Linked DNA regions of Homo sapiens. The protein of the gene in region 2 interacts with the protein of the main gene of each other region in a biochemical or structural test. Each region holds a gene or a part of one and is shown on either strand. Other genes may lie near its edges.

What was found.
Region 1: the proteins of NCKAP1L (region 2) and GAS7 form a complex in vitro, tested with the Homo sapiens proteins (one study listed by BioGRID).

The regions. Positions count from the first base shown.
Region 1 is NC_000017.11:9,906,922-9,922,135, forward strand, and holds the end of GAS7 (growth arrest-specific protein 7), read right to left. Parts: intron 12,785-15,214; coding exon 12,705-12,784; intron 11,179-12,704; coding exon 11,080-11,178; intron 10,421-11,079; coding exon 10,307-10,420; 3' UTR 3,685-10,306; downstream 1-3,684. UniProt on the Homo sapiens protein: May play a role in promoting maturation and morphological differentiation of cerebellar neurons.
Region 2 is NC_000012.12:54,488,565-54,505,783, forward strand, and holds the start of NCKAP1L (nck-associated protein 1-like), read left to right. Parts: upstream 1-9,187; 5' UTR 9,188-9,225; coding exon 9,226-9,327; intron 9,328-10,213; exon of another isoform or gene 10,214-10,271; intron 10,272-10,790; coding exon 10,791-10,901; intron 10,902-11,968; coding exon 11,969-12,061; intron 12,062-17,219. UniProt on the Homo sapiens protein: Essential hematopoietic-specific regulator of the actin cytoskeleton. Controls lymphocyte development, activation, proliferation and homeostasis, erythrocyte membrane stability, as well as phagocytosis and migration by neutrophils and macrophages.

The DNA.
Region 1 (15,214 bases), on a different chromosome or scaffold from region 2:
TTGCCACCGTGGATGGAGAGTTGTCTCTTTTTGCCCTGGGGTGAGAATGATGAAGAATAAACCCCACGGTCTCCAGGCAGGTAAACTGGTTTTTTTTTAGACGGAGTCTCCCTCTGTCACTTAGGCTGGGCACGATCTTGGCTCACTGCAACCTCCGCCTCCTGGTTTCAAGCAATTCTCCTGTCTCAGTCCCCTGAGAAGCTGGGACTACAGGTGTCTGCCACCACGCCCAGCTAATTTTTTTTTGGTATTTTTAGTAGAGTCGAGGTTTCACCATATTGGTCAGGCTGGTCTCGTAAACTCCTGACCTCAGGTGATCCGCCCGCCTTGCATCTCAAAGTGTAAAGTGGGGATTTTAGCCTACTTACTAACAGGCTAGTGGCAGCAGAAGGTAGGTCCCTGCTGCTGGGAGAAAGCCACCTGCCAGGCCCACCTCATGTCACTCTGGAAGGACCGAGAGGTTCAGGCACCAAGGGGCAGACTCATCCCTCCCAGCCGCTCTGCCCAGTACAGTTTCAGAGATTTCTCAGGAAACCTGCATATTGGGGTGTGTGTGTGAACTTTCTAATTTTTTTCCATCACTTTGTGAGTTTTTTTTTTTTTGTTTGTTTGTTTTTTTTGTTTTTTTTTTTTTAAGACAGAGCCTCATTCTGCGCCCAGGCTGGAGTGCAATGGCACGATCTCGGCTCACTGCAACCTCTGCCTCCCAGGTTCAAGCGATTTTCCTGCCTCAGCCTCCCAAGTAGCTGGGATTACAGGCGCTCACCACCATGCCCAGCTAATTTTTGTGTTTTTAGCAGAGATGGGATTTCACCTTGTTGGTCAGGCCGGTCTCGATCCCCTGACCTCATGATCTGCCTGCTTTGGCCTCCCCAAGTGCTGGGATTACAGGCATGAGCCACTGCGCCCAGTGAGAATATTACTTCTGAATAGGAGTCCTTCCTCTCCTAGGCTTTCACCATCCTGTAGCGTGCATTTATTCTCAAGAGCAGTTAGAAACAGGACAGTCACTAGCCTTGAAAACAAACGGGAGCCCAAGCCACACCCTGGAATCGCATTCATTCCAGAGCTTCCTTGCAGCCCTGGGGATGGAGGGAGAGTGAGGTCAGAGGCCTCGGCCCCTTGCTCTGAGCCACTAGTAGGGGGCGACTGGAAGTGCCTCCTGGATCGCACCCCTGTCCACATCAAGCCTGCAGCAGATGAGGCGAAGCCAGTGTTACAAGTGAGAAGTGGGGCCTCCTAAAGGCATGTCACCAGCCTGGGGTCACATGGTTGCTAAATGGCAATGCCAGAAGGAAGGAAAGTCCAGGTCTGCCAGCCTGTCCATTTAGGCTTCCTTTGTCTACGTCACAGGAGGCCTGAGCCTAGAGGACAAGTAGGTGAGGAGGTGGGGTTACCATGTCAATGAAAGAGGCCCTGGGCGAGGCAGAAGGCAGCCAGAGCCCTCCAGTCTTTGCTGTCCTCTCCAGGCACAAGGAGGAAGGAGCTGGACCCAGGTCGGAAGCAGCCTGGTACAGTCCACATTCTCCAGGTTGCTGTGCCCAGGAGGGGCCCCAGGGGACCGCAGGCAGCTGTGTTGATGCTGAGAGTGAGGGGTCATGACCTGGAGGTTTGTTTGAAAACCTGCATAAACATCTTCTATCAGAGGGAGAGCTTATGCTCCTTAGCCAAACAAGTTGTTGGAGATGATGTATTGTGAGTCGATTTGTTAAGTCTGAGCTGGGGCCATAAACTCTCCCAAAACCCAAAGACTGCTCTAGAGGAGAAGGCTTCATCTCCAGGCAGAGGATCCCAGTTTTGGTCTCGCTCTCCTCGCTGGACTGAAAGATGCTTCCCAGAAGCTGGCCCTGTCCCCTCAAGCAGGAGCTCCATCTTGGCCATTAGCTGGGACCCAGACGCCACCCCTTCCCCATTGCTCGACCTTGCCTGCTATGAGCTGAAGGCCAAGACGACCCTCCTGCCCTCTGGCCTGGAGCCAGCACCTGCAGAGAAGTCCGCATTGAGAGGGAAAAGGGGGTATGGAGAAGGTGGCGGGGGAGACAGAGAATGGGGAAGGACCCTCCTCCCACAGCTGTCCCCATTGCAGAAAATGACAATCCATCCTTTTGATGACTTGGATTGAGGTCCTTGGCATCATTCTCAGTGTTTCTCTTTCGGTCACAACCCACTCCAATCTATCAAGAAATCATCTTGACTCTACCTTCAAGGTACATCCAGAACCAGACCGTTCTTCCCGCCTCCCTTGCACCTGCCTTGTGCAGGCAGCATCACCGCTGCCTCCTAACAGCTCTTCCTGCTTCTGCTCTTGTCCCCTTACAGCCCCGCAGTGAGCCCCATGGCCATGAAATCAGGTCATGCACTATGGCTGCCCACTTCTCCCAGTCCAAGCCAAAAGCCTGCAGCAGGCAGCACTGGCCCTCATCCCACCATTTCTCGCAAGTGGCCTCTGGCACCTCCAAGAACGGATGAAAGGGGGCGGATGCCTTTTGTCTCTCTGCTAAGTCATCAGAGGTAAAATCACCACCAATCCCAAGAACCTGGGGGAAACGCTGAGACGGGTCGTTCAAAGAATGTGACAGCCCTCCAGGAAAGAGGGTTGCCCAGCGTCCTCATCTTCTCTTCCCTCCTCACTCCCTCCACTCCAGCCAGGCTGGCCTCAGACACGCGAGCATCTCTTCCGCTTGGAACACTCTCCTCTGGTGACCTTCCAGGGTCCCTCCCAGGTCTCCTTGTCTTTGATCAAATACCACCTTCTCAATGAGGCCACTCAAATGACCCTATTGAATCCTGCAACGTACCCTGTCCTGGTTTTCTTTTCCACAACACTTAACACCATCCACACCCACATCACAGAACATAGTAGGTCTACTGTTTTTGTCTGCTAGAATGTAAGCTACCTGAGAGCAGGGCTCTGTTTCTCACACTGATGTGTTCCCAGAACCTAGAGCAGTGTCTGGCATATACCAGATGCTCAGTAATTATTGAATGAATAGATGGATGGGACCGGGCGTAGTGACTCATGCCTGTAATCCCAACACTTTGGGAGGCCGAAGAGGACGGATCACCTAAGGTCAGAAGTTCGAGACCAGCCTGGCCAACGTGGCAAAACCCTGTCTCTACTAAAAATACAAAAATTAGCCAGTTGAGGTGGGGCGTGCCTGTAGTCCCAGCTACTCGGGAGGCTGACACAGGAGAATCGCTTGAACCTGGGAGGTAGACGTTGCAGTGAGCTGAGACTGTGCCACTGCACTCCAGCCTGGGCGACAGAGCGAGACTCTCTCTCTCTCTCTCTCTATATATATATATATAAATGAACGGATGGATGGATGGATGAGAAAAGAAACAGCCAGGAGCTCCAGAGATGAGAGGGAGGCAAAGGGCTGGAACCCACAGAGACAGGAAGTCACCAGGGGGAGGGGCCTGAGGCCAGGAGCATAGCATCCATTTGGGTGCCAGTGTCCAGATGCCCTTTGTCTCCCGCTAAGTCATCGGAGGTGAAATCACCACCAATCTCGAGAGCCTAGGAGGGATGCCAAGACAGGTCACATGAAGAATGTGGCAGCCCTCCAGGAAAGAGGGTCGCCTAGGGGGACCTAGTGTCTCTGGACAGTTTATTTTACATGGGATGAATCTAGGCATCTCGAGGATACACACAGAGCAGAAGAAAAAAAAAACGAGATGGGATTTAACTTCCTGAAAACTCTTTATAATAATGCAGGACAACTGTATATAGCAAACGCCTTCAAAATTTAAACTCTTTAAACATTTAATTCTTCAGCATTAATACACACAAATGCGGTAACAGGGGTCAGGGGGGTGGTGCGGGGGCAGGTGGGTTACAGCCTCCACTGGGATCAGGGTTTCAACAGTGTTACTTATAAATTATATTACATCAATTTTATTTACTGATCTAGGCAGCCAGAGGGTGGAAGGATATACAATGTGGAGGAAACACATTCATACCGGGGTGAGGAGTGCTGGCGGGAGACACGGCTCTTTAACATGAAAAATGTATAAAGTATTTAGCAAAAGTTACAGAAAACAGATCAAACAAGCAAGTTTATTTTGTTAGAAAATTCCACTTTCATAGGGTTTGCCGATGTGCTCGTGTCTGTGAAGGGGTTGCTTCCGGTCATCTCCTTCCTAACGGAAGGGAAGGGATGCTAAGTTGGGGCCCCTGTCACTAAGGATGGCTGGCGTCCCTTTGAATGTCTGTCCCTGGGTCCACACAGCTGCCTGGAACCCACGACTCCCGAGAGCCCGTCTGCTGCAGGTGATGCTGGAAGGGAAGCGCCCCCACTTGACAGATGAGTGCACGGAGGTCCCGACAGGGGATGTGACTTAACTTCAGGTTATGGGACAAAGGAGGCCGCAGAGCAGGGCCAGTCCTGTGCTCTCCCCCTGCATAGCAGGCTTTCCCTCTAGGTCTCCCAGTCACCCCACCCCGAGAGAGCACCCACGTGCCCTGACCTTACATTCCACTGCAATCCCACTAAAGTTTCCCTCAAACACCAAGGAACAGTCCTGAACACCACACGCAATCTCCAAAGGCCATCGCCCCAACCTCACCCCACCCCCAGAGACACCTCCCAGGAAGCCCTCCTGACAGCCATGCCCCAGCATTTAGAACGTGGGGAGAAGCGAATTGGTTTTTGCCCTCTGTCTGATTCTCGCTCTAACCTGCTGCAATGGGAATTGCTTCTTCACCTCCAGGAAAGCCTCAACAAAAATACTCCTGAGGGGGAGACAAGAGTCCTCCCCGGCAAATTTCAACCCAGCAGAGTCCTGGCAGCCTCTTCGGCTCCCTACCTTGAGGCCCCGGGGGCTCAGGCTTCCTGGCCCTAATCTTCACCTGGCCTGGATCCAGAAATGTCTCTGGTTCGCATAGAGAGGTACCCAACTGGTCTCGGGACTCACCTTTCACTGAGCAGGGGGCATGAACAAGACACAGCTTAGTGGAGTGTTTACCTCAGGGGTCACACTCAGCCTGGTCTGGCCTTAACTGGGTGTGGTCCTGTCCCTGCCACCATGTACCACCATCCAGTGGGGTGCAGGTACAGGCCAGGCTGTGTGATCACCAGCTAGGCAAGGCTCCAGCTGCGACAAGGACTCCATCTTCACGCCTGTCCTGGCTCCTGGGGAGTAGACTCCAGAACATACTATCAAAGATCGACGAATGAGATCCAAACGGTCATTACTTGCACTGTCTTTGGGGGGTCCTAGGAGAAACTACCTCATTCTTAACAGCTCATAAAACTCTTAATTTTAGCTCCATTTGAATCTAAATGGAAAAGTACCACGGCATCTCTCTCACCAGGACTTGAGGCAATTCTATGCACGATTGTGCAGATGAGAGCCAGACACAGCATGAACACGTGTACAGGGTACATCATTGGAAATGAGAAAGGGAGGAGGTACATGCAGTTGCCGGTGGCCTGAGACACTCATCTAGAACAAACACCCTCAGCTTGCAGATGAAGCAACAGATCCAGGAAAGCATCATGATGAGCCCCAGGGCCAGCCCCAGCCTTCTTGTCCATGCTGCTTCTGCTCGCCTTTCAAAGCCTCCAACGCCCAATACATAGCCAAGGACCGTGTGACACTGAAGCCTGGGTCCCAGAAGGGAGCAGATCTGCTGGCTGAGATGCAAGCTTCAGGTTGCAGCAGACGTGAGCAGCAATTGAGCACCCATCCGTCCCTTCCCCTCCCATCCCTGGATTCTTTCTGCACTACCAAAAACCCACCACGCGCCAAAAGGCGAGTGTGAGCCCTAAGAACAGCTTGTGGGCACAGCTGGCATTTGGAGGAGGAGCCTGGGGAACTGAAGGAAGCAGCAAGCTGGAAGTGGTCGTGCAAACAAGTTGAAGACCCTGGGCCAAGAACTTCCAGGGCGAAAGGCTCAGTGTAAAAATAAAGAAGCAGAGTAGTACGCCCATGCAATGAAATACTTCCCGGCAAGGAGAAGGAACAAACCACACGCACACATCATGAATGACTCAAAAGCATTAAGCTGAGGGAAAGATGCCAGACTCAAAAGGCGACATCAGTGTGACTCCATTTATATGACATTCTAGAAAAGGCAAAATTATAGGATCAGATAATCAATCAGGGTTGCCAGGGAAAGAGGGCAGGAGAAGGGAATTTTTTGGAGGGTTAAAAACAGGTTGATCTTGGTGATGGTCACAAGACACTAAATTTGTCAAAATTCACAGAGCTGTATATTTCCAAAGGGTGAATTTTACTGGATGTCAATCATACCTCAATAAACCTGGGAAAAGGTGGTGGCGATGGGCCTTGTAGGGATGGCAAGGATTATGGGGATAAGACGATGTCCAGGCTACGTGGGGGGGCAGCTGATCTGTACCCCACTTAACATTAGAAGTGCTCTCTCCGACCTACACAAGGAATGCATCTTGAGCCTTCTGTTTAAACACTCCTTGTCAAGACTACCTGCAGCTGGAAGTAAAATCACCTAAACAAGCCAAGGTCGCTGATGTCCTTCGAATGTTATGGCTTGTATTTCCAAAAGGGACTTTGGCTCAGCCCAGATTTTTCTGCATCCATCCACTCATCTAGTAATTGATTGGTTTTCACAAAGGGTAGGGAAAGAAACCCCTGGTTGGTGAATTCGTTGGTACACTGTTTCGGTGTGCCCAGCTGTTTATCAATCCTGACTAGCAGAGCACTGCCTCCCACCGCAGAAATTCTCCTTGGCCAACAGGGTGCTGAGTGGAGGTAGAAAGGAGGCCCAGGGTGGTCCCACTGACAGAATCTCAGGGCCGCCATCCCCACGGTCCAAGGGGCCTATGTGTTGCCACTGACTGAAAGCACTAGAAAGAATAGAGGGTAACAAGTGGCTCTTCCTGGAGGTTGTCACAGCAACCAACTTGGAACACCATTTGGCTTAAGGAATTTTTTTTTTCTTTTTAAATCAGGCTTTCACAAACAGATCTTGTGCATCAGTCTCCTGGGTGGAGGCAGGTAGAAGGGGCTGACTTGTTCTCAGAAATGGAAGGGACATTCTCAAGAATAGCCCAGACCCGCCCACTTTGAATAAACCCAGCTAAGTCCTCACCTAAGCACCAAGACATAAAACAAAACAACAACCCGGATAGCGTGCTTGCCTCTCCAAAGTGCAGTCTTTTATTTTCTCAGTTGCATCCTAACCTTGATTTCAACCAGAAACGGGCCCCTGTTCATACGGATAGGGGTTCTGGACTGTTGACTCTAGCCCTGGTCTTAATTCACTGGCAATTTCATAGCCTCACTGGTTACCCTTGAGCTTCACTTTCCTATTTGCAAAGAGTTATTTATAATTTTTTTGAGATGGAGTCTTGCTCTGTCACCCAAGCTGGAGTGCAGTGGCCCGATCTTGGTTCACTGCAATCTCCGCCTCCCAGGTTCAAGCGATTCTACTGCCTCAGCCTGCCGAATAGTTGGGACTACAGGTGTGCACCACCACATCTGGCTAATTTTTTGTATTTTTAGCAGAGACGGGGTTTCACCATGTTAGCCAGGATGGTCTCGATCTCCTGACCTCGTGATCTGCCCACCTCGGCCTCCCAAAGAGCTGGGATTACAGGCGTGAGCCACCGTGCCCGACCCTTATTTGTAAAGAGTTATTTAAAGCAAACAGAGAAATTTCTGAAATTCGAATTGGATATGGGCCGTGAGGGTCTGGTGACCAGGTGATTAAAATCTTGTTGCTGTCTACCTTCCATCCAACAGGTAAATGCCTCACGACGGTGGTTTATATTATAATAAAGAATCCCAGAGGGTTAAGTGTGGAGAGGGTACAATGTTCTTATTATACTCTTCTCAGTCGACATGGAGAATAGAGGAGAGCAGAGGAATGCCCATCTTACATACAACTAGAGCGCCGCTTCTCAGCATGCCTGGCTTGTCTTGAGCATTCGCTGAATGAATGCAGATTAATCAGAACAACAGACTTACCTCTGAAAACTTAAATTCTGTAGAGTGCCTATGTATCAATGCCAAGGTTGCTGACCGGTAAGACCCCTGAAAACGAGCGATCACGGGCTTCCCTGACGACAGGGCCATTATAGTGTCCTCAGATTAGATCTTAGCACAATGGCTTTAACCTGCTTGATGAATGAATAACAGAGGGAAGAAAGAAAGGAAGTACGTGAAGGGGGTAAAGAGAAGGAGGTGAGGGGATGAGGGGGGAAAGAGTGACCTCCAAAAATGGACTGGCCCAAACTGGGCCAACCTGAGCTACCCTGGAAGACGCAAGAGGGCTCACTCTATCCCAGGGATGAACAGAGGACTCTGGAATCCTCAGATGTAATGGAAAAGTCAATGAGCCATATTGTACTCAAAATATCTTGTTAATAACAAGGCTATTGGCTTTGAATGTTTGGAAATCATCCACAGAGTAGTTTACTAAGCCACAAAGCAATTACCACTAGCACCCATTTTTCATAAAGAAACCAAGAAATAATATTCTAAAATTGGTAGCTGGTGTCATGACCCAACCCCAGATCTGGACAGAGTGGTTCTCCATCCCATGGACAGATCCTACCAGGAGGTCTTCACGTAGGTGAAGGCCTTTGTGCTGACCTTTTTGGTTGCAATGTTTCAAGAACAAGAGAAAAGTGACAACGTTTGGTTTACTTTAGTATATTAGGCATTTTTCTAATGTGAACTATACGAAAGCAATTCTCATTCAATGAAAGAGGCGCCAAAAAATTAGAGATTAATAAGTCATCGGTTTCTAGCACGTTGACTGAAAGACCAGTGAGTTGTGCTTGTTGAATTCTGCCCTCACTGCAGATGTGCAGGTCAAACCCAAAGTGGTCAATGGGAAAGATGAAGAAAGATGGATTTCCAGGGCATGGGCTCCCGACTAGAATCTGCCCCTCGCTCATGCTTCTCCCGGCCCCTTTAGACTCTTTAGACTGACATGGTGGAGAATGTGTTTGCTGTGGTAGAGAAAGGGAGAAAGTAATGAGCTGGGCCAAACAGCAGCACTGAAAGCTTCCCAAGTCACACTCAGACCAGACTTTTCCAGGGATTGGAAGATGGAGAGAGGGAAAGGAGGTGCAGACACCAAGTAAGGGTTTGGTGCAGGGCTCTGGAATGTCCAGAAGGAGCGGGAAGCAAAGGTGGCGGGACACTGCCTGAAAGGCGACAACCTAGTGTGGCCACAAGAGAGTCTGCTATGCCTGTCCAGTGCCCACCAGTGACAGAAAACTGTACAAGGGACAGCAGTCCCAGCCCTGCCATACACAAGAAGACAGAGCCATCTGGGGGATGGCAAAGACTTGCCCTAACCCATCTCACATGTAGGACTGACCCGGCCCCATTAAGAGCCTGTGGTGGGCGGCCCGGGAGAGTGGGGGCCAGGGCAGCCCAAAGGTGCACAGGGCACCGTGGCGGACAGGCCCCAGCTTGCTGGCCTCTGAGACGAGCTGGTTTGTTTCCATCCCTGAAGCCTTTGGACGAGCTGGATGAGGTCTTGATAACTGAGAACTTTGGAAAGCTTCCTCTAATGAGACTGGGAAGGGCTGGCAGGGTGGGGGCAGGGGCCTCCCCGAGGAAGCAGCTGGGGGAAGGATGGATTGGCATTTCCAGAGGAGACTTTACAGATGGCGCCTGATCTCATGGGACACGATTCAGCGCTCAATTTGGGGCTAATTTGCCGAATGAGGTAGTTCCATCCTGACCTCTCCAGGCATGGTGGGTCTGGGAAGACAGGAGCCAAGCCTTCCTCCTAAAACCCCTGGTGATGAACAGTGGCTGAGAAAGCCAGATGTGGACTCCCAGAATGCAATGGGAAAAAAATAAAGAAGGAGGGCTGCAAAGGATTCTGGGTGCGGCTGTGAGCTGAATGGCACCTTCTACCCATGATTCTGATCCTGACACCTGGCTTAGAGACAGAGCCCTCCCTACCCTGATCCTCCAAAGCCCTGGAGACAAGGGAGCCAGCTGGAGGAAGAGCCTTGGGGCTTCCAGGGCACAAGCATGTGACAGTGACCCCTACAAAACTCGGCAAGGACCACAAAGTTCCAGCCTCTGTTTGTTTCAGAGCGGCAAGCACAGCATGGGAGTCAGGGGGTCTTCAGCCTCAGAGACAAGGGCAGGGCTGTGGGTCTGTCTTCTGGGCCTGGGAATATGGGGGAGCCCCCAGCTAGGCTGTCCGGGTCACCCTTCTGGAATCACCAGCTCTCTCCCCTCTCCTCAGTGGCCCAGGAGAGAGGGTGGGGGGCATCCACTCGGCATGGGCCCCATGGTGGGAGCCCAGCCCCCCTCCCCAGCAGGACCCCCCGAAGCTGCACAGGCCCATCTAGATCTCCATGTCCACAGGGCGGATGTTGCCCGTCTTGTGCTCTCTGACCCACAGCTCCCTGTCTTTGGCCGGGTCCACTTTTCGAAGCAGCTGATCCACGGGCTCGACTGTCTGCAAGAGACAGAGAAAATGCGACACTGTTAGAGACGGCGGCCAAGCCAGGGAGGTCTCCTCTGAGACATGCTGTCCTCACCTTAGTGTCTCTGAGAGCAGCCTCTCTAGAGGGCTCCGGGGCCCCAGGGGGAGGCCCATCTGAGGGACAGCACATGAAGAGGGCTGTGAACGGGGAACCCAGTATGCATCCCGACCCTGCTTCTCACCCTGCAGACCCCAGGCCTGGATGAGAGGCCAGGAGGGCCTTAAAACCTGTCTCTATCCCTTCCACCCCACATTTACCACCAGTGAACAGGACAAATAAAACTTGAGCTTTAGGTATTGTGAATATTTCTAGAAGTTGTTTTTTTTGGTTTTGTTTTTTAAGAAATTTAATAATGTCTTCAGCTACTGTAACTGTTACGAGCTTCTTTCTCCTCAGGGTAACAGCTCACGTGTGTGTCCACTTCATGTGCCAGGGTCGGAATCACACAGACGTCCAGGACAATCCTGAGAGGCCCAGTCCACGAGGCCACCCCCAGGCCAGAGCACCTGCCCACTGCCCGCCTTTAGGGCAGATTCACTTGCAGCAGCCACTTAACCTGCCACGGCCTAGCGCCAGGCGGCTCTCCCCAGGCCCCGTGTCGCCCGGGAGCCCCGCTGGGCTGGAAACTCACGCTTTGGTTGAACATGTCTGTTTCATGCCGCAGCTGCGTGTACTGGCACAGGTGCTGCCGGATCATCTCTACCCTCTCCACCTCCAGCCGCTCTAGCTCCTGCCGAGAAAGCAAAGGCCAGAGAACTCTGAGCACGTCCCCTCCACTTGGGGGTCCCCCCACCAAGACCACAAAACGCAAGTCACTGGCTGTGGACATTCTGTCCCATCTGACTCTCTGGGGTCTGATGAAGAGCGTGCCCCATATCTAAGGTGAAGGTGAAGCTGATGACAGCAGCAGCGGCTGTTTTACTTCCTGAAATCCTGCTCCGCCACGCACAGTGCTGAGGGCTTTACGTGCGTTCCTTAACTGTCCTCGTTACAATTTTAAGAGATCGTTTCTGTTATTATCCCCATTCTCCAAGCAAGGGAACTGGGGAACTAACACCTAGAGAGGCAACAACACAGCTCACCCAAAGCGACACGGAATTATGGGAGGAACAGGATTTAAACCAGAGTCCATCAGGCTGTTACTCATGGCAATGCACCCATGCAGCCCTGGCCCTGGTGCCCTGATGGGGTATAACAAGGGGGCACATGTGGGAGCTCCATGCCACACATTCCTGGGACCTTGTCCCTGGGCCTCTGCTGAGCAGCCTCCCTTCCTCTGCCTATGCCTAGTGCTGTGGCCGCAATAGAGACCGGGCCAGGGAGGCAGACTGGGCTGCACGTGGCACAGCTTTTGTCAAAGGGGAGCGTGGAAAGGGTTTGTCCTCTGGTTTCTAGATGGTTTTGTGTCTTTGGAATCTAGGGGATCCGGCTGTTACTCTGCATACAACTAGGTCACTGCCCAGGTGATTAATCAGAAAGGGGGGTAAAGCAGGGGGCTTAATTAGGAGATTAACCAGGAGGAAAACTAGGTCACTGTCCCTGGTGGAGGCCTCTAATCTGCTCTGGTGGGCTGACACCTGGGGAAGGCAGCTGGTTAGTCCTGTGCTGGATGGACAGGGGTGGCTTTAGGCAGTGGGCTGATCCGATGAGCACCTGGCATGATGCCTCCTGTCCCATCTGGCCCAAGTACCAGCCACACTTCACTGTCCACTCAGGCAGGTGCTGACTGATAAGGAGATGCTGCCCCTTTACAAGAAATACTCAAGAGCATCATCGGCCCTGCCGCCTGTTGTTCACCCTTGGTGAGAGGCCTCCCCCACCCCACTGCCTAGCTCCATCCTCACCCATCCATCCACTTTGCAAGGATCTCCTACCAAGGACCTGCAACTCGTGTGTGTGCATGTGTGGGGCGGTCCTCTCTTCCTATAGCTTGGCTATTTTTCCTAAAGAGGCCCTTGTCCACTTAGTTGAGGAGAGTCCTCAGTTGACCCTGACCTCTCAGGGGACAGCCCAAGAAGGATGTAGCCATATCCAACCCAACCCTGCCCACATCCACACAGCTAGGAAGCGCTGGAGCAGAGATCTGAATCCACATAAGCTGGCTCACATTGAGGTTTCGACCCCAACACTGAAGTAGATTTGATGACCATCTCCAGGGTCACTCCACCCCATCATCCCCGCGCCCACCAACAACCACCAGGGGCTGCTCTGTGTCAGCCTCTGTACTGCCATGTCCACACATCCCTGCCCGCTTACCAATGTGGTGGTCACCATCTCTTCAAACCATTTGGACTGGGCCTGGTTGTAGAGATCCACACAGCGCATGAGGTCGTCTCCTGGAAAAAGACCACAGTCACCATCATGAAGCATCCTATCCTCACCATGACTCTGTGCCCCACCCTGAGCCCCACAGCCAAGCCTTCTCCTCCCCCTGGGGTCATGGTGGCCGCTGGAAAGCTGGAAAAGGGATGGCAGTAGGAAGAAGAAGAAAGCAGAGCCAGGGAAGGAAGGGGGCAACCCAGCCCCATGAGAACCCAGCTCAGGTGTCCCCCTGAAGCCTGACCCCAGATACCAAGGATTCAGGATGGTGGTTCTCATTTTGTGTGTGTGTGTGTGTGTGTGTGTGTGTGTGTGTGTGTGTGTGTGTCTAGGGTATTCCTAGGACCCCCAATCCTATCATGAGCCCAAGAAATGCTTCCCTCTCTAAAGATGGCAGTTTTATTTTACACTGGGGAGTCCAGATTGGTTAAAACATGTCACACACAATTTGGTGCTAAGAATAATTAAGGAAGATAAATTTGCAGATCATGTAAGTGTGTGTGTGTGTGTGTGTGCATGAACACACTGCAAGATGTCCTTCTGAAACACAAAAGAACGCATCTGTAGTCACAGTCTAAAACATGCACTGGAGGAGCACACCCCAGCTTCAGGAGAGTGGCTACCTTGGGAAACAGAGAAAGGGTGAGTGGGCAGGAATCAGCTCCTTCTATTGCATTTTATGTCATCACAGAAAGATCCGAGGCAAACATAACTATTCAATCTTTAGGACTACTCTATTACTTTGTTATCATATGTATGTTTAGAACATTTTGTAATTAGAAAGAAAACACACTGCGAAGTAATTGCAAACATTACTAAGCGTACCAGCACCTTGGAACCTTGCTACACAAATCACAGTCTGTGGGCCAGTGGCACTTGTATGCCCTGGGGTCGGCTAGAAATTCAGAAACCCAGGACAGATCCGAGACCTACTGAATCAGAGACTGCATGTTTATGAGACGCTCTGGTAATGTGTGTGCACGTGGCAGGCAGAGCAGCACAGCTCTCATGCACGGCTTTGTCTCAGCGTAGCTTCCTCATCCTCACAGGGCTCCAGCAAGAGGAAGGCATCATGGTGTTTGCTCACGATGGAAAAAGCTCATGAGTGAACCCCAAAGTGAAGTAATTTTCTCTAGTAATTCTAGAAGCAGAATGCTAGAGTAGAATTTAGTAATTCGAGTAGAGTCAAAGTGACTCCTATAGTATCATCATTGTGGCTCATAGGTACTCTGATAGGAAAGTCAAAGAGAACAGGGAAGGTTATGTCTCCAGGCCCCAGGCCTAGCTGCGAACCATACCCCTAGCTATGCCACACACCAGACGCGAGTGTGCCTTGAATAACAGAGCCCACACCAAGGCATTTATTCATTTTGTTCTTGGTCCAAGGCCAATGACTGGACCCTTGATCCCAAGAGGCACTGAACCGGAGAGAAGAAAGTGGATGCTGCACCGTAAAATGCATTTTTTTCTTTTTTTTTTTTTTTTTGAGACGGAGTCTGGCTCTGTCACCCAGGCTGGAGTGCAGTGGCGCAATCTCGGCTCACTGCAACCTCCACCTCCCGGGTTCAAGTGATTCTTCTGCCTCAGCCTCCCGAGTAGCTGGTACCACAGGCATGCGCCACCACCCCTGGCTAGTTTTTGTATTTTTAGTAGAGATGGGGTTTCACCATATCGGCCAGGCTAGTCTCGAACTCCTGACCTTGTGATCCGCCCGCCTCAGCCTCCGAAATGCAAATGCATTTCTAGCAAGAGCTCCTGCCTGGCCGAGGAGGAGGGCGGCGTGCTGCTCTGTACACTGTGAAACTCCCTGAGCCCTGTGTGTCAATGCTGATTTTGAGAAATTGCTTCAGGAACTTCCACAGCATTGGGAAACAGAGTAGGTGAAGGGGGCTGTACCTTCTCTCTATGGCAGCCCAAGAGCTTGAAATTGGAACTTTTTAGAACAGTATTGGTTAAGACCATGGATTGTGGGACAAGAATGCCTTTGTTGGCCAGGCGCGGTGCCTCACGCCTGTAATCCCAGCACTTTGGGAGGCCGAGGCGGGTGGATCACGAGGTCAGGACATCGAGACCATCCTGGCTAACACGGTGAAACCCCGTCTCTACTAAAAATATAAAAAATTAGCCAGGCGTGGTGGCAGGCGCCTGTAGTCCCAGCTACTCGGGAGGCTGAGGCAGGAGAATGGCATGAACCAGGGAGGCGGAGCTTGCAGTGAGCAGAGATCGCACCACTGCACTCCAGCCTGGGCGACAGAGCAAGACTCCATCTCAAAAAAAAAAAAAAAAAAGCCTTTGTTGTCATCCCAGCTCAACTACTTATTAGCTATGTAATCGTAGACAAGTCGGTTATCCTGCGCTTGCCTCCGTGTCTTCATCTGTAAAATGGAGATAACGATTGTACCTTTACCAAGTTGTTATGAGGAATAAATATGTCAAAATATGTAAAG
Region 2 (17,219 bases):
ATGGGGCGGCCGGGCAGAGACGCTCCTCACCTCCCTGACGGGGTCGCGGCCGGGCAGAGGCGCTCCTCACATCCCAGACGGGGCGGTGGGGCAGAGGCGCTGCCCACATCTCAGACGATGGGCGGCCGGGCAGAGACGCTCCTCACTTCCTAGATGGGATGGCGGCCGGGCAGAGAGGCTCCTCACTTTCCAGACTGGGCAGCCAGGCAGAGGGGCTCCTCACATCCCAGACGATGGGCGGCCAGGCAGAGACGCTCCTCACTTCCCAGACGGGGTGGCGGCCCGGCAGAGGCTGCAATCTCAGCACTTTGGGAGGCCAAGGCAGGCGGCTGGGAGGTGGAGGTTGTAGCTAGCCGAGATCACGCCACTGCACTCCAGCCTGGGCACCATTGAGCACTGAGTGAACGAGACTCGGTCTGCAATCCCGGCACCTCGAGAGGCCGAGGCTGGCGGATCACTCGCGGTTAGGAGCTGGAGACCAGCCCGGCCAACACAGCGAAACCCCGTCTCCACCAAAAAAATACGAAAACCAGTCAGGCGTGGCGGCGCGCGCCCGCAATTGCAGGCACTCGGCAGGCTGAGGCAGGAGAATCAGGCAGGGAGGTTGCAGTGAGCCGAGATGGCAGCAGTACAGTCCAGCTTCTGCTCGGCATCAGAGGGAGACCGTGGAAAGAGAGGGAGAGGGAGACCGTGGGGAGAGGGAGAGGGAGAGGGAGACCGTGGGGAGAGGGAGAGGGAGAGGGAGAGGGAGAGGGAGAGAATCTTTGATTTTTCTAGAAGGAAAAAGTTCTAGGTTTTCCCTGTATTCCATCCTCCACCCCTTTCTGGAAATGCTGAAGACAGATACCATGTTCCAACATTAAGAACTGCCAGGTGCTACATATGGTCAGAAGCTTGTTTATTTTCATTTTTATTTATTTATTTATTTATTTATTTATTTATTTATTTATTTATTTATTTATTTGAGATGGAGTCTCGCTCTGTCACCCAGGCTGGAGAGCAGTGGCGCAATCTCGGCTCACTGCAAGCTCTGCCTCCCGGGTTCACGCCATTCTCCTGCCTCAGCCTCCCCAGCAGCTGGGACTACAGGCGTCCGCCACCACGCCCGGGTAATTTTTTGTATTTTTTTTTTTTTTAGTAGAGACAAGGTTTCACCATGTTAGCCAGGATGGTCTCGATCTCCTGACCTCGTGATCCGCCCACCTCGGCCTCCCAAAGTGCTGGAATTACAGGCATGAGCCACAGCACCTGGCCTATTTTTATTTTTTATTTTTAGAGATGAGGTCTTGCCATGTTGTCCAGGCTGGTCTTAAACTCCTGGTCTCAAGCAATCCTCCCACCTTGGCCTTCCAAGGTGCTTGGATTACAGTGTGACCCACTGCACACAGCCTAATTTTTTTTTTTAAAAACGTTAACTTTTTATTTCTGAGGTTATTTTCTCCCTCTAGTGGCTTACAGTTCTTATCAGGAAAACTTACTCTTCTGCATGACAGGTGGTACTGTAATCTGCTGGCTGGCCTCCTGTGGTTTGGGTCATAAGGACACATTTCTAAGGCTTCTGGCTCCATGAGGACTAAATGGTAGGAACCACAGGTTGTCAAATAAAAAGAATGACATTTAAGATCAGGTAGTCTTGGCATAGACCTATTTTATATTGTCAAAACAAAAGTAATATGAAAGATAGGAGTATCTCAAGTCTTACCTATGAAAGTTTCGAGTAACCAAAGCAATAGCCTAGCCAGTTAGACAGTAGGGGAAATTCACTGCTTCCATGCAAAAAATTAACGTTTGTATATATTTTTAGTCTTATAAGTTGTGTTAGATAGAGTGCTTGTCTCTCAAATAAAGTATTAAACAGGCAAAGGTCCTTGGAAAACTCAGTCTGGAGTAAGATGAATTTTTTTTTTTAAGACAGTTTCACTCTTGTTGGCCAGGCTGGAGTGCAATGGCGTGATCTCGGCTCACCACAACCTCTGCCTCCCGGGTTGAAGCTATTCTCCTACCTCAGCCTCCCGAGTAGCTGGGATTACAGGCATGTGCCAAGCCTGGCTAATTTTAAATTTTTATTAGAGACGGAGTTTCTCCATATTAGTCACGCTGGTCTTGAACTCCCGACCTCAGGTGATCTGCCTGCCTTGGCCTCCCAAAGTGTTGGGATTACAGGCATGAGCCACAGCGCCCAGCCAGTGAAATTTCATACTGTAAGCTTGAGTGCTGGAGAAAGAAAGGCTGGGACAGCTGGTTCCTTTACTATTCAGCATTGGTCCCTCCATCCCTTTTCCAACTTACCTAAATTAAGCTCTTTGCCAGGGAAAGATGCTAATTGTCAGATAGGTCAGCATAGCCACTGTTGGAGAAAAGGAATCTGAAGTATGAACAGTACAATGCTTAAGTTCAGGCTACTTTATAATTATAATAATTATTTTTTAGAGATGGGGCCTTGATGTTGCCGAGGCTGGAGTGCAGTGGCTCTTCACAGGTGTGATCATAGCACATGACAGCCTCAAACTTCTGGGCTCAAGCAATCCTTCTACCTCAGCCTCCTGAGTGGCTGGGACTACAGGTACATGCCAACATGCCAATCTTGGGCTACTTTATAGTTACCTGAGAATGTCAGTCTCAAATTTCTAAAGTTGTAGGTATTAACATATGAAGACTCCTAGAAGTGATTCAAGAATATACCATCTCAGATCTGCTACATTTTACTGCCAATATAAGGCCTACTTTCTTCCATGGCTAGCTGTCTTTAGCTATCCTAGCAGACGTTCATATTAAGGACTCTCAAGTTTCCAGGCAACAGCTACACCGAGATTTCTGCAAAGCATGGACAGTATAGTTTGATGGAGGAAAAATAAGATCAAGGCAGACTGGAATAAGCAGTAGGGATAGAAAAGTGCCTTAGAATAGTCCATTTCAATTCTGCTTTGCATCATGCCTAGGGCATAGATAAAGGGCACAGAGCTAGACTATTAAATGTCAGATTTTCCTGAGGGCATTTTGGTGACTAAATCCAGGGATTTAGACTCAGGTACCTTTCAGGAATACAAGTCAGGGTAGTTGTTTAAAGCTTTCACTGCATATTAATGATTATATTAGAGCCATGAACCCTTATTATAAAGTGAATTGGCTCTCTGGAAAATAAAGGCTGCAGCATAATTCAATGTTGTATACTGTTATCTTTAGATTTTTAAAGATAATGGAAAAAGATCTTCAATAACCCAAATGTAGTCTTCAGACAACCCCAAACCCTCATTTTGGCCAGCAGCCTAGAAAAGTATGAAGTTTGACCAGACTGATAAGCCTGGTCTTAATAAATGAAGACTGCTTTAGAATAGGTGGCGAGAATTGGTGACGCTGGGTTATTCACCTGATTATGGATAGCTGAATGGAGGCTAAGACCATTTCCTTTGATATATGTTAGACATGGCCAAAGCATTCCCAACCTTGATGCCACCTTGACACTTAAACCTAGCCTAAAGGATCTTGAGACCTACCTTATTCTTGAAGGAGTGTCTGTCAAGAATCTGAAGGCAAGTGTGACTTGAAGGCGAAGACGATCCTTTGGTAAGACAAAAATAAGACAAATAGCTGAAGTTTGAGGAGAGGGAAAGCACAGTACCTTTTAGTCTGGTGATGTGAATCAACTTTCCATTCAAGCTACTCAATTCCTCTTTTCCCACCATATGTTCTATGATTTCTCAGAGGTTCGGAAATTTTTGATGTCATAGTTAAGTCTTAGAGAACTGGCTCTCAATCCTGATTGTTCATGAGAATCACTGAGTAGTTTTAAAGTGACAGGTCCTTTGGTCCCACTCCAAAACTACTGGATCAGAATCTTCAAGAATGGGCTCTGGCTAATTGTGGCTTTAAAAGAGTTCCACAGGTCTGGCACAGTGGCTCACACCTATAATTCTAGCACTTTGGGAGGCTGAGGCAGACAGATTGCTTGAGGCCAGAATTTTAAGACCAGCCTGGGTAACATAGTAAGACCCCCATCTCTATAAAAAAATTTAAAAAATTATCCTGGTGTGGTGGCGTGTGCCTGTAGTCCAAGCTACATGGGAGGCTGAGGCAGGAGGATCACTTGAGCCCAGGAGTTCAAAGCTGCAGTGAGCTATCATGACACACAGTTGTACTCCATCCTGAGCATCAGAGCAAGACCCTGTCTCTATTAAAAAAAAAAAAAAAGAAAGACTTCTACAGGGGATTCTAGGTCTACCAGGCCATACTTTGGGAGTAATTAAATACCTTTAGAAGGGTTCCTCCAGTTTATGGGAGAAACTGCTGAATGATCTTTCCAATAAGTTTCTCTAAAAACTACCAGTTGGCATAGTTAGTTACATTAATTTTTTTGAGATGGAGTTTTGCTCTTGTTGCCCAAGCTGGGGTGCAATGGCATGATTTCGGCTCACTGCAACCTCTGCCTCCCGGGTTCAAGCGATTCTCCTGCCTCAGCCTCCCGAGTAGCTGGGATTACAGGCGTGCACCACCAAGCCTGGCTATTTTTTTGTATTTTTAGTAGAAATGGGGTTTCTCCATGTTAGCCAGCTGGTCTTGAACTCCTGACCTCAGGTAATCCGCCCACCTTGGCCTCCCAAAGTGCTGGGATTATAGGCGTGAGCCACCGTGCCTGGCAAAATTTTTTTTTTTTTTTGAGACGGAGTCTTGCCCTTGTCACCCAGCCTGGAGTGGCAATGGCTTGATCTCGGCTCACTGCAACCTCCATCTCCTGGGTTCAAGTGATTCTCCTGCCTCAGCCTCCTGAGTAGCTGGGATTACAGGTGCCCGACACCACGCCCGGCTAATTTTGTATTTTTAGTAGAGATGGGGTTTCTCCATTTTGGCCAGGCTGGTCTCAAACTCCTGACCTCAGGTGATCTGCCTGCCTTGGCCTCCCAAAGTGCTGGGATTACAGGTGTGAGCCACCACACTCAGCCCAGAAAATTTTTTTTGAGACAGGGTTTTGCTTTGTCTCTCAGGCTGGAGTGCAATGGTGCAATCACAGCTCACTGTAGCCTCAACCTTCTGGGCTCAAACAATCCTCCTGCCACAGCCTCCTGAATAGCTGGGACTACAGGTGTGTGCCACCACTCCCGGCTAATTTTTGTATTTTTTGTAGGGATGGAGATTCACCATGTTTCCCAGGTTGGTCTTGAACTCCTGGGCTCAAGCCATCTGCCTGCCTCAGCCTCCCAAAGTGCTGGGGTTATAGATGTGAGCCACTGCGTCTGGCCTAGTTCCATTTTTAAACCTAGAGTTTTTCTTTATGAGTGTCAAATAGAATCCACAGAAAGTGACATAACAAGCTCACTACACACTCAAAGATCAAAATTTTACTTTACTGTTGACATTCCTAATCCAATGTAGCAGGTCTTGAACCAAATGTTTACATATGCCATATTATTTCATCAGTTCCACAGTCGTATGAGGGATTACCACCATTTTATAGATTAGGAAACAACTCAATGGTGATAGATAGCTAAAGTTACAAAGCTAGTAAGTGTTTAGCATTATTAATATTAATTGAGGTAATACATGTAAGCTTGAGTGCTTATAGTACTTCAAATGCTTTACATGTACAGAGTAAGTAACTAGGCTATAACTTTTAAAATATGCACAATAGCTCCGTGAAATAGGAAGTATTATCAATATCATCTTTATTTTACAGACAGGATAAATAGGATGTGAACTCAAGATATCTGGTTCCAGAACCTGGGCTCTCGGTCACTAAATCATAAGGCTCAGCCCACTGTACTCAACTACACTTGAGCCAAATTCTGTCTGATAACAGCAGGTAGGCTTTTCGCATATACCAAGTACAGGGGAATAAGTGTTTCCAGGTTTCAACAATCTTTTGGTTCAGCTGGCTAGGCAGTATTATATGAAATGGGCAGTTAAGGACAGAACCTGATTTAGATGTAAAGTATGTGGTATAGACCAAGTGTTGTGGGAGTTCGGCAAAACCTAGACTTGGGACTATTGAGCTAGATCCTGAAGATTGACTAGGATTTGGGTAAGCAAGAAGGAAAGCATGCGTAAGTGAAGTCAGAGAGGCAGACATGAACATAGCACATTCACAGCAGGCTGAGAAGATGGTCCCCACCAAGTTGGGGAGTATCCATTAAGGAGCAGGAAACAAGATTAGCTTGGGATGCAGAGTCTTCAACCACACTTTCAGGATAAAGACAAGAAATTCAAGTGAGGTGGCTCACAAAAAATACAAAAATTAGCCAGACGTGGTGGCCTGCACCTGAAGTCCCAGCTACTCAGGAGGCTGAAGTGAGAGGATCTCTTGAGCCTGGGAGGTCAAGGTTGCAGTGAGCCATGATAGCACTACTGCACTCAAGCCTGGGCAACAGAGCGAGAGCTTGTCTCAGGAAAAAAAAAAAAAAAAAAAAAAGGAATGCAAGAAAGAGCCGCTAGAATTACACTAACCCCACGAAGACCGGTGCTATGCTGCTGCTAAGCTTCCTGGATGTTGGCCTCTTACTGTCTGCTCCATATTCTCCTTGGTAAAGGTAAAAGACCAGTAGAAATCCTACAAATTGCTTTAGTAAAACCTGGGTTTCTTTGATAACAGCAGGTAATTCAAATCTTCATGACCAATATCACATTACCTCGAGCCCATAGCTTTCTAGGGACCCAGTCTAGTAAATAAAATGGAAGGCAGATTCTATATTCCTAAAATGCAAATTCTACCTTAGAGATATTTGAAATTTCATGCGTTAAGTGTTGCCATCTTGCTGCTTCTTTTAAAAATACATTCTCTTTGGAGCATGGATGTTAAGTTTCTTTTTAAAATTAAAAAACATTTAGATTCAGGGGATACACATGCAGGTTTGTTACATGGGTATATTGTGTGATGCTGAGATTTGGGCTTCTAATGAACCCATCACCCATGCCCAAATAGTGAACACAGTACTCAAGTTTTTTTTTCTTTCTTGCCTTTATTTATTTATTTATTTATTTATTTATTTATTTAGAGACATAGTCTTGCTCTATCGACCAGGCTGGAGTGCGGTGTTGAACTCCTGGGCTCAAGCGACCATCCCACCTCAGCCTCCTGAGGAGCTGGGCCTACAGCCATGTACCACCACACCAGGCTAATTTATTTTATTTTATCTGTAGAGGGGTGGGGGAAGGTCTCACAATGTTGCCTAGGCTGGTCTTGAACTCCTGGCTTCAAGCAATCCTTCTACCTTTGCCTCCCAAAGTGCTGGGATTATAAGCATGAGCCACTTCACCTGGCCCCAACTTCTTAAGTAATAATGCTGATCAGCCTTGTCTCTCTTCTCCCACTCCCTAGAATTTATTGGGACAATGGGAACTCTGGATACGGAAAATGGGAATGATTAAAAACCTGAGAAAAGGAATTGGCAAGGTGGTGGAAATGAAGAGAACTCTTTTTGATTTATAATTTTTCCTAGGACCTTTTGCTTTGTGTCTTGAAAGAAAGTTGAAATAGAGTTGAAAATTTTCTTGAGTTACGGAGTTAAGGCCTCATTGGAATGGCAAGAATATTTTAATGCTAAAATTCATTCAAGTCTCTAAGATTTAAGGGTGATTACTAATTTCCTCTTTTTAATCTTGATTAATTTGGTTCTTCTTCATGGGGCCTATTTCCTAATTTAGTCTTAATAATTCAACAAATAAACCAGCATATTTATTGAGTGACTACTGTGTCCAAGAGGTATTGTTCTAGATCAGTGTTTTTCAGAATGGAATATTTGTACCAAAACCTCCTACAACAGTGCTTATATAAGTACAGACTTCTAGGCCCCACAACAGACTCGCCTACCTACCAATGCTAATCTCAGAGGACAGGGATTGATCTGTTTCTCAAGCATCCATAAATACCATGGTACTAGAGCACTGGTTCTCAAACTTGAGTGTGCATTGGAATCACCTGGAGGGTTTGTTAAAACACAGAGTGCCTGGACCCACCCCAGAATTTTGGATTCAGTGGTCTGGGGCGGGTCCTAAGAATTTGCATCTCTAACAAGTTTCCAGGTGATGCTGATGCTGCTGGATCACATTTTGAGAATTACTATGTACTTCTTGAGAACTACTTTGAGAATTATTATGTACTGTAGAAGTACAATGCACTGTAGTAGAGCATTGTGAGAAATATAAAAAAGTATTAGAGGCCGGGTGTGGTGGCTCATGCCTGTAATTCCAGTACTTTGGGAGGCTGTGGCGGGTAAATCACCTGAGGTCAGGAGTTCGAGAGCAGCCTGGCCAACACGGTGAAACCCCATGTCTACTAAAAATACAAAAATTAGCAAGGCGTGGTGGTGGGCACCTGTAACCACAGCTACTCCAGAGGCTGAGGCTGGAGAATTGCTTGAGCCCAGGAGGTGGAGGTTGTAGTGAGCAGAGATCATGCCATTGCACTCCAGCCTGGGCAACAAGAGTGGAACTCTGTTTCAAAAAAAAAAAAAAAAAGAAAAAAAAGTATTAGGTACAATTCCTGTCATTAAGGAGCTTATGCTGTAGTTGGGGGAGATACAACGTACACTATAAACATATAACAAGGAATATATGTATTTGACAATATAAAATATAATACAATATAATATTTGACATTGATGGGGTCTTTAGGAGAAGATGGGATTTGATCTGGGTACTAAAACATGATGAGGCCAAAGGTTCATAGGCATTCTTGGATATAAAAGAAGGAAAATATAGAGGTGTACAGGGGTGGGGTGGTAGATACTTGTTTATCTAGCTTACAGCTTTTAATTTTTATTTTTTATAGAGATGGGGTCTTGCTATGTTGCCCAGGCTGGTCTGGAACTCCTGAGCTCAATGGATCTTCCCACCTTTTCCTCCCAAAGTGCTGGGATTACAGGTGTGAGCCACCACGCCCAGCTTTGTCTAGGACACTTATGGGGGCATAAGACCAAAAAGGTTGGTGCAGTCTGTGAAGAGCCTTGAAAGCCTGTCCTTCTCCTCAGCTCCACCCACTTCATAGCCTTACCAAAAGTGCTGCACAGCCAGAAAGAGGAAGTCTCCCCTGCTGAGTGTGCAAGAGGAAGCACAAGAAGGCTCTGAGGGCCTGTGAGCCATAATGACTGATTTCACCCATGAGCCAATTGCAGAGGCAACAGAAGACCAGTGCACCAACCAGGCTGGGTCCCTCCGCCAGAGGGTGTCACCATCTAAGCTGAAAGTGTTTGGGGAGATCAGACATTGCTGTCTGGTGCTCCTCTCTCAGTGGCCATCATGTCTTTGACATCTGCTTACCAGCATAAATTAGCAGAGAAGCTCACTATCCTGAATGATCGCGGTCAGGGGGTTCTCATCCGTATGTATAACATCAAGAAGGTAAGCATGAACAATGGGACTAGTACTGATTATTCCAACAATAATAGGGCAGGGAACCCTGAGGCGGCAGGTGCAGCAGTTAGACTCCCACCTTTTTTTCCACTGCTTTTCCACTGACTATAATCTACATAATCACTCAGATTATACAGGCCAGCCAGTTCAGGAAGGCAGAAGTGGAGGCTTCTTTTCAAGGCTTCCCCTTTCTAGATATGATTCTTGCCCCAACGATGGCATCTGCTTTCCTCTGGGGATGGGGGTGAGGGTGGGGATGGGGAAACAACAGTGGTATTCCAAGTGACTTGGATAAAGGTCTGGGGTCCAACCTTCTGGGTTTTATTATTTATTGTTGATCCTCTACACTCTGAAGAGATCTGAAGCTGGGTCTCTGGCAAAAACTTTTCTGTGGAAGTGCTTCCCTAAAAGGAAAAAAAATAGATAATTAGGTATTTAGATTAAAAAGGGTAGGTGTCTTCTGAGCTGCTCCTGGGGTAGTTCATGCTGTGGTGGTTGTGTGTGTGTGTGTGTGTGTGTGTGTGTGTGTGTTTAGAATAGGAACTGAGGAATTGAAAGAAGCTAGTGACAAGAGGTGGGCTAGGGGCTGGGCAAACCATAGGAAGTAAAGAGATAAAGACAGGGGTGTTTATGGGGAGTTCCTGGCATAGAAAATAGGGGACTTTGGGGGAGGGAGCTTTTGTGTTTTTTGTAATAAAACAAATCACCAGGAACACGGTTTCTCTGTCACCATGAATCCTGTAAATGCCCTTTGGGATAAGATACTTACATAGTGAACAAAATTGTGACACTGAATCTTGTACAAAGTCTAACTCCTGAGCAGCTGCTTTTCTTGTTCCTTCCGGCTTCAGTTGAGGGGCGGGGAAACAGCTTCCTCTTTGTGCTGGGGCCAAGCAGGCATTAAACTCTACCCATCAAGACAAAATGCCTAGGTTGTTATTTCGCTCTTAGATACTTGGCTTAATGTCTTGGAATTTTTTCTTGACCTACTCTTATGCTTTTTATTTTTATATTTATTTATTTATTTATTTATTTATTTATTTTCGGAGTCTCGCTCTGTCGCCCAGGCTGGAGTGCAGTGGCACGATCTTGGCTCACTGCAACCTCCGCCTCCCGGGTTCAAGCGATTCTCCTGCCTCAGCCTCCCAAGTACCTGGGACTACAGTTGTGCACCACCATGCCCAGCTAATTTTTGTATTTTTAGTAGAGACGGGGTTTCACCATGTTGGCCAGGCTGGTCTCGAACTTCTGACCTTGTGATCTGCCTGCCTCGGCCTCCCGAAGTGCTGGGATTACAGGTGTGAGCCGCTGCGCCCAGCCTCTCATGCTTTTTAAATTAGTTCCCAGGTTGCCTTTTCCTAAGACAGATTATGAGAATGAATGTTGCAAGAAGAGGTATGTTTCTGAGGAGGAGGAGAAAGGGTTGAAATATATATGGTTTCTCTCTGCAGACTTGTTCAGACCCCAAATCTAAGCCACCTTTCTTACTGGAAAAGTCCATGGAACCATCTCTCAAGTATATCAACAAGAAATTTCCCAACATAGATGTCCGAAACAGCACGGTGAGAACTTGGTCCTTCTCTCCTTTCTCTGAATAATTCTCTGCTTGAATGGCTGAAATTCTCCTCTTTTGATGCCTCTCTTCAAACTTGGCAGGGGATGGAGTAGTCTTTTTTTATTAATAGTTTTCCAAGGCTCAACCACAGGGCTTCAGGTTGTTGTAGAGCTTTAAGTCTTGAGCATTTTGAGATAAGATGGGATTCTTCCAGCATAAGCTGGAGCGAATCATCACCCCTTTTCCATTGCAAGATTCATGGGAAAACATTGTTTTTGTACAAGACAGCTCTATCAACCCAGCAGGGTACATGTATTTTATTGTTTCTGTTTCCCACTCACTGTTTCCTTGCTGTTTGTCTTAGATTTCTGCATCTAATGGGATATCTCTACTTTTCCCTTATTAAATGTTAACCCTAGATTTTTCACCCATCTTTGTAGCATCTTTGAATTCTGTTTCTTTTGACTTTGATATAAATAGTATATCTGTTCATCTGAAAGGGTGCTTAAAATTTCCTCTCATTTAGCCCTCTGTATCTAGTCAGGATCACATGCAACCATTCTACCTAGATAGACAATCTCCTTTGTTTAAAGACCTTCAGAGCACTGAAGCGTTTCTAACTTCCTCTGTCAGTATATTTCAACTCTCTTTCTTTTTCTTTTCTTTTCTTTTTTTTTTTTTTTGAGATGGAGTCTTGCTCTGTCACCCAGGCTGGAGTGCAGTAGCACAATCTTGGCTCACTGCAACCTCTGCTTCCCAGGTTCAAGTGATTCTTCTGACTCAGCCTCTCGAGTAGCTGGCATTACAGGCGCCCGCCACCACGCCCAGCTAATTTTTGTATTTTTAATAGAGACGGGGTTTCACCAGGTTGGCCAGGCTGGTCTTGAACCCCTGACCTCAGGTGATCCGCCTGCCTCGGCCTCCCAAAGTGCTGGGATTACAGGTGTGAGCCACTGCGCCCGGCCTCAACCCTCTTTAAGAATGTTTTAGGTATAACCACTGTTCTTCTTGAGTTATTTGGATCAATTGTCTTATTTTGCACTTTTTTATTGTTTTGTTTTGTGTTTCTCTCAGCAACATTTAGGACCAGTACATCGTGAAAAAGCCGAGATAATTAGATTCCTCACCAACTACTACCAGTCATTTGTGGATGTCATGGAATTTCGGGTGAGCTCTCTTGAGCCGTTTCCAATGTAGGCAAGGTCTTTCAGAGGCTATTCTTTCTTTAGATGTTCATGTATTTGCTTAAAACAAGTTCTTGAAAAAATGAGAGAGATGTACTAATATGGAAGGATATCTAAGTTGTATTGTTAAATGAAAGCAAATTTCAAAATAGTATATGATACATCACATTTCTATTTTAAAAGAGTATGTATGTATATGTATTTAGTAAATATCTAGGAAAGATCTGGACTATTTTACATTAAACTGTTAAAAATAACTACCTTTGGGGACTGATTATGACTGGCTTCAATTTAGTAGGCTATGCATGTTTTTTCTATTTTAAAAATTATGGTAAAATACACATAACATAAAATTTACTGTCTTAACCATTTTTAAGTATACAGTTCAGTGGTACTAAGTATATTAATAATGCAACCATCTTTTCACCTTGTAAACCTGAAACTCTCTACCCTTTATGCAATAATTCCCCATTTCCCTTTCTTTCCAGCCCCTTGCCATCACAATTCTACTTTGTTTTTGTGATTTTGACTATTCTAAGTACCTTATATAAGTAGAATCATAAAGCATTTGTCTTTTTGTGGCTGGCTTATTTCATCAGCCTAATGTCCTTAAGGTTCATCCCTGTTGTAGCATATTGTAGAATTTCCTTTTTAAGCTAAATAATATTCCATTGTATGATTATACTACATTTTGCTTATCCGATCGTATGTTGATGGACACTTAGGTTGCTTCCAAGTTTTAGCTATTGTAAATGATGCTGCTATGAACGTGGGTGTACAAATATATCTTCAAAACCCTACTTTCAATTCTTTTGATTATAAACATGAAAGTGGAAATGCTGGATCATATGATAATTCTATTATTAACTTTTTTTTTTTTGAGTTAGGGTCTCACTCTGTTGCCCAGGCTGGAGTGTAGTGGTGCAATCACAGCTCACTGCTGCCTCGACCTCCTAGGCTCAGGTGATCCTCCCACCTCAGCCTCTTGAATAGCTGGGGCTAAAGGCACATGCCACCACACCTGGCTAAGTTTTTATATTTTTTGTAGAGATGGGGTATCCCCATGTTGGCCAGGGTGGTCTCAAACTCCTGGGCTCAAGCTATCCACCCACCTCGGCCTCCCAAAGGCTGGACTGTGCCGGCCTATTTTTAACTTTTTGAGGAACTGCTATACTGTTTTCCACAGTGGCTGTACTCTTTTACATTCTCACCAACGGTGCATAAGGGCTATAATTCCTCCACATCCTCGCCAACAATTGTTATTTCGTTTTTTTGACAGTAGCCATCCCAGTGGGTGTGAGGTATTATCTCATCTAAGTTTTTATTTGAATTTTTGCTAATGATTAGTGATAATGAGCATTTTTCATAGGCTTATTGGCCATTTATATATCTTCTTTGAAGAAATGTCTGTTTCATTCTTTGACCATTTTTGAATTGGATTTTTTGTGTGTGTTGAGACTTAGGAGTTCTCTATACAGGTTGAGTATTCCTTATGGAAAATTCTTGAGACCAGAGTGTTTTGAATTTCATATGTTTGCAGATTTCAGAATATTTGCATTAGGCAGTTGAGCATCCCTAATATGAAAGTCTGAAATTTGAAATGTTTCAATGAGCATTTCCTTTGAGTGTCTTGTTGGTGCTCAACAGGTTTCAGATTTTGGAGCATTTTGGATTTTCGGGTTAGGGAAGCTCAACCTGTATAAACTATATATCTTTGCATTATTTGAGCTTTAAAAATTTCAAGTATTTTTCCACAATATTTTATACAAACCTACTGTAAAATTTCTAGTATAGTACAATGAATATTGTTATACTCTTCTCCTGGATCTCCTAATTGTTAGTATTTTGCCACATTTTCTTATCCTTCTCTATTTTTTAATGAACTATTTGAGTTAGCCTCATACATCATGACATTTCCTTTCCCAAATACTTAAGCATACATTTGCTAAGAGCAAGAATATTTTCTTACCCAACCCTAATATAATTATCATACTCAGGAAATCATACACAGGAAATATAACATACACAGGAAATATATCATACACAGGAAATATAACATTATGGCTGGGTGCTGTGGCTCACGCCTGTAATCCCAACACTTTGGGAGGCTGACGGGGATGAATCGCTTGAGCCCAGGAGTTTGAGACCAGCCTGGGCAACATGGTGAAACCCCATCTACACAAAAAAAAAAAAAAAAAAAAAAAAATTAGCTGGGCATGGTAGTGAGTGCCTGTAGTCCCAGCTGCTTAGGAGGCTGAGGCAGGAGGATCACTTGAACCTGGGAAGTCAAGGCTGTAGTTAGCCATGATTATGCCACTGGCCACTGTACTCCAGCCTGGGTGACACAGTGAGACTTTGTCTCAAAAAAAAAAAAAAAGAAACAAAACCCCACCCAAACTAATATACAGCCCATATTCACATTTCTCCAGTTGTCTCAAGGATAATACATTGGATTTAGTTATGTCTCCTTCATCTTTAATCTAGAATGATTTCCAGCCTTTGTCTTGTATGACACTGACATTTTTGAAGAGTCTGGGCTAGTTATTTTTGAGAAATCCTTCAATTTGAAATTGTCTTATTGTTGATAGTTTTTGGGAGCAATACTACATGGATGATATTTTATTTGAATTTTAAATAATGAGCATGTATTATTTTTATAAACATAAAAAATAAAAATTAATATGATGTTTTTGAAAGAAAAATTGATAAGGTATTATTAAAATTTTAAAAATTAATGTCGTAATTTTACATTTAGAAATTTGTCATAAGGAAACAGAATTGTTTCATGGGGAAATAAAAAAAGGAAACAAATGCAAAGACATATGTATAAGAATATACTCCATTGCATTATTTATGATAGTTACAATGTGATAATTGATATATCCAATAAATAAAGGTTTGGTTAAAAGTTCAGAGTATGTGCCCACAAATGAATATTCTGTAGCTGTTAAAGTATACACACATATATATATATACACACACATATATATTTTTTCTTTTCTTTTTTTTTTTTTTGAGGCGGAGTCTTACTGTGTTGCCCAGGCTGGAATACAGTGGCGTGATCTCGGCTCACTGCTGCCTCCGCCTTTGGGTTAAAGCGAGTCTCCTGCCTCAGCCTCCTGAGTAGCTGGGATTACAGGCACGTGCCACCACGCCTCGTTAATTTTTGTATTTTTAGTAGAGATGGGGGATCTCACCATGTTGGCCAAGCTGGCCTCGAACTCCTGACCTCAAATGATCCACCTGCCTCGGCCTCCCAAAGTGCTGGGATTACAGGCATGAGTCACTGCACCCAGCCAATAATATATTTTTTATATTAATTGGTATAGAAAATGTTCATCATATGTTGTTTAATGTAAAAGCAAATTGCAGTAAGACAGTTTAAGACAGATGTAAGATGTAAGATGTCCCTAAAATGTATATTTACATAGGTAAATATGCATATAAAGAAGATTGGAATTTCTGATCGGTGGGATTATAGTTTAAAAAAGCTAGTTAAAATTAAACTTGTCGGTATTTTCTAGTTTTTTCTACAATAAACATGTATTATTTATGTATTCAAGAAATAATGCAAATTTTAGCCCTCTGAGCAACCCAAGCTTGTGGTGGTGTTATAGTATTTTTTCAGATGATACAAGAATAATGTGTTCTGTGCCTACCCTAGGAAGCAAATCCAGGATATTCAGTAGATCACATAGTGAAGAGAGAAGTGAGGACAAGAAGGACTGTAATGTATGAACGAGGGTCAGGTCAGAGAGTATTCATTGTGGAATTGAGAGTAGTGGTTAGCAAGAGGGTAGGTGCTGGTGGAGGCAGTGGGAAGAATGCTGGAAGCACATAAAAAAAGTCTCTTACTGAGAAAAGTTGAAGGGCAAAGGAGATTTTAGAACACCTTCTGGTTGCTGCAGTGGTAAATAAAGTTCTGAGCCCAAGGTGTTTGGTACGGCTTGTTTAGGAAAGGAGGGGAAATAGGGACATTGAAGTATGATGCACTGTTAAGTAGGCCCTGAATTAGACAGACTTGGTTTCAAATCTCAGCTTTACCACTTACAAACTGTATGACTTTAGATAAGAAACTCTTTAAATTCCAGTTTCCTTATCTATAAAATGAGGAAATAAGATTTACTGTGTGAGGCGTCTGTGAGAATTAAATGAGATAATGCATGGACAACATCTAGCTTGGTGTTTAGCATATAGTAAGGCAATAGACCAACACATGTTATTTCCGTTCCCTTCTGATTCTTGTCTGTAGAGAATAAGACCTGCGTAGTGACATTGGTTGTGTGAGTGGCTGAAAGTGAATTTCAGCTATATTCCACTGGAATTTGGGTGTAGGCTGGAGTTGTAGAAAGGCATTCCTAGCAAATGAGGAAGTATAGACCTAGACAGAGGTCATGTAGCATACAGGGAAAATCAAAAGCTCTGGATTCAAGTTCTAGTACCATTCCTTACTAGCTCTATGATCTTAGGCCAGTTTCTTTATTTTTCTGCATTCATTCAGCAAGTATTTATGATGTCACCCGGCTCCCCGCCACATTGCGGAAACAAGCATGGAGACGGGGCACTGCCTGCACAGGGCACATTTTGGGGGACAGCTACCCTGTCTGGTGTGTTAGGCAAGTTTCTTAATGGCTCTTGGCCTTGGTTTCCTTATCTGTTAATTTAGACACAGCCTTTTTTTGGAAGATAAGTAAGAAGCACTTTTCCTACACATTTTAATAAATTTTGACAAGTGTATATGCCTGTGTAACCACCACTACAAAGTATTGAATATTTCCATCACCCCAAGGGTTCCTTGTGCCTTTTTTTTTTTTTTTTAGCTTCAGCCAATCCCTACCCTTCACTTCTGGCCCCAGGCAACCACTGATCTACTTTCTAGAATAGATTTTTCTTTTCTAGCAGTTCAAATAAAGGGAAACTATACAGCATGTATTCTTTTGTGTCTGGCTCCTCTCACTCAGCATCATGTTTCTGAGATTGATCTATGTTGTTGCATGTATCAGTGATTCAGTACCCCGTCCTCCCTTTTTTTTTTTTGAGATGGAGTTTCACTCTTGTTGCCCAGGCTGGAGTGCAATGGTGTGATCTTGGCTCACTGCAACATCTGCCTCCTGGGTTGAAGGGAGTCCCCTGCCTCAGCC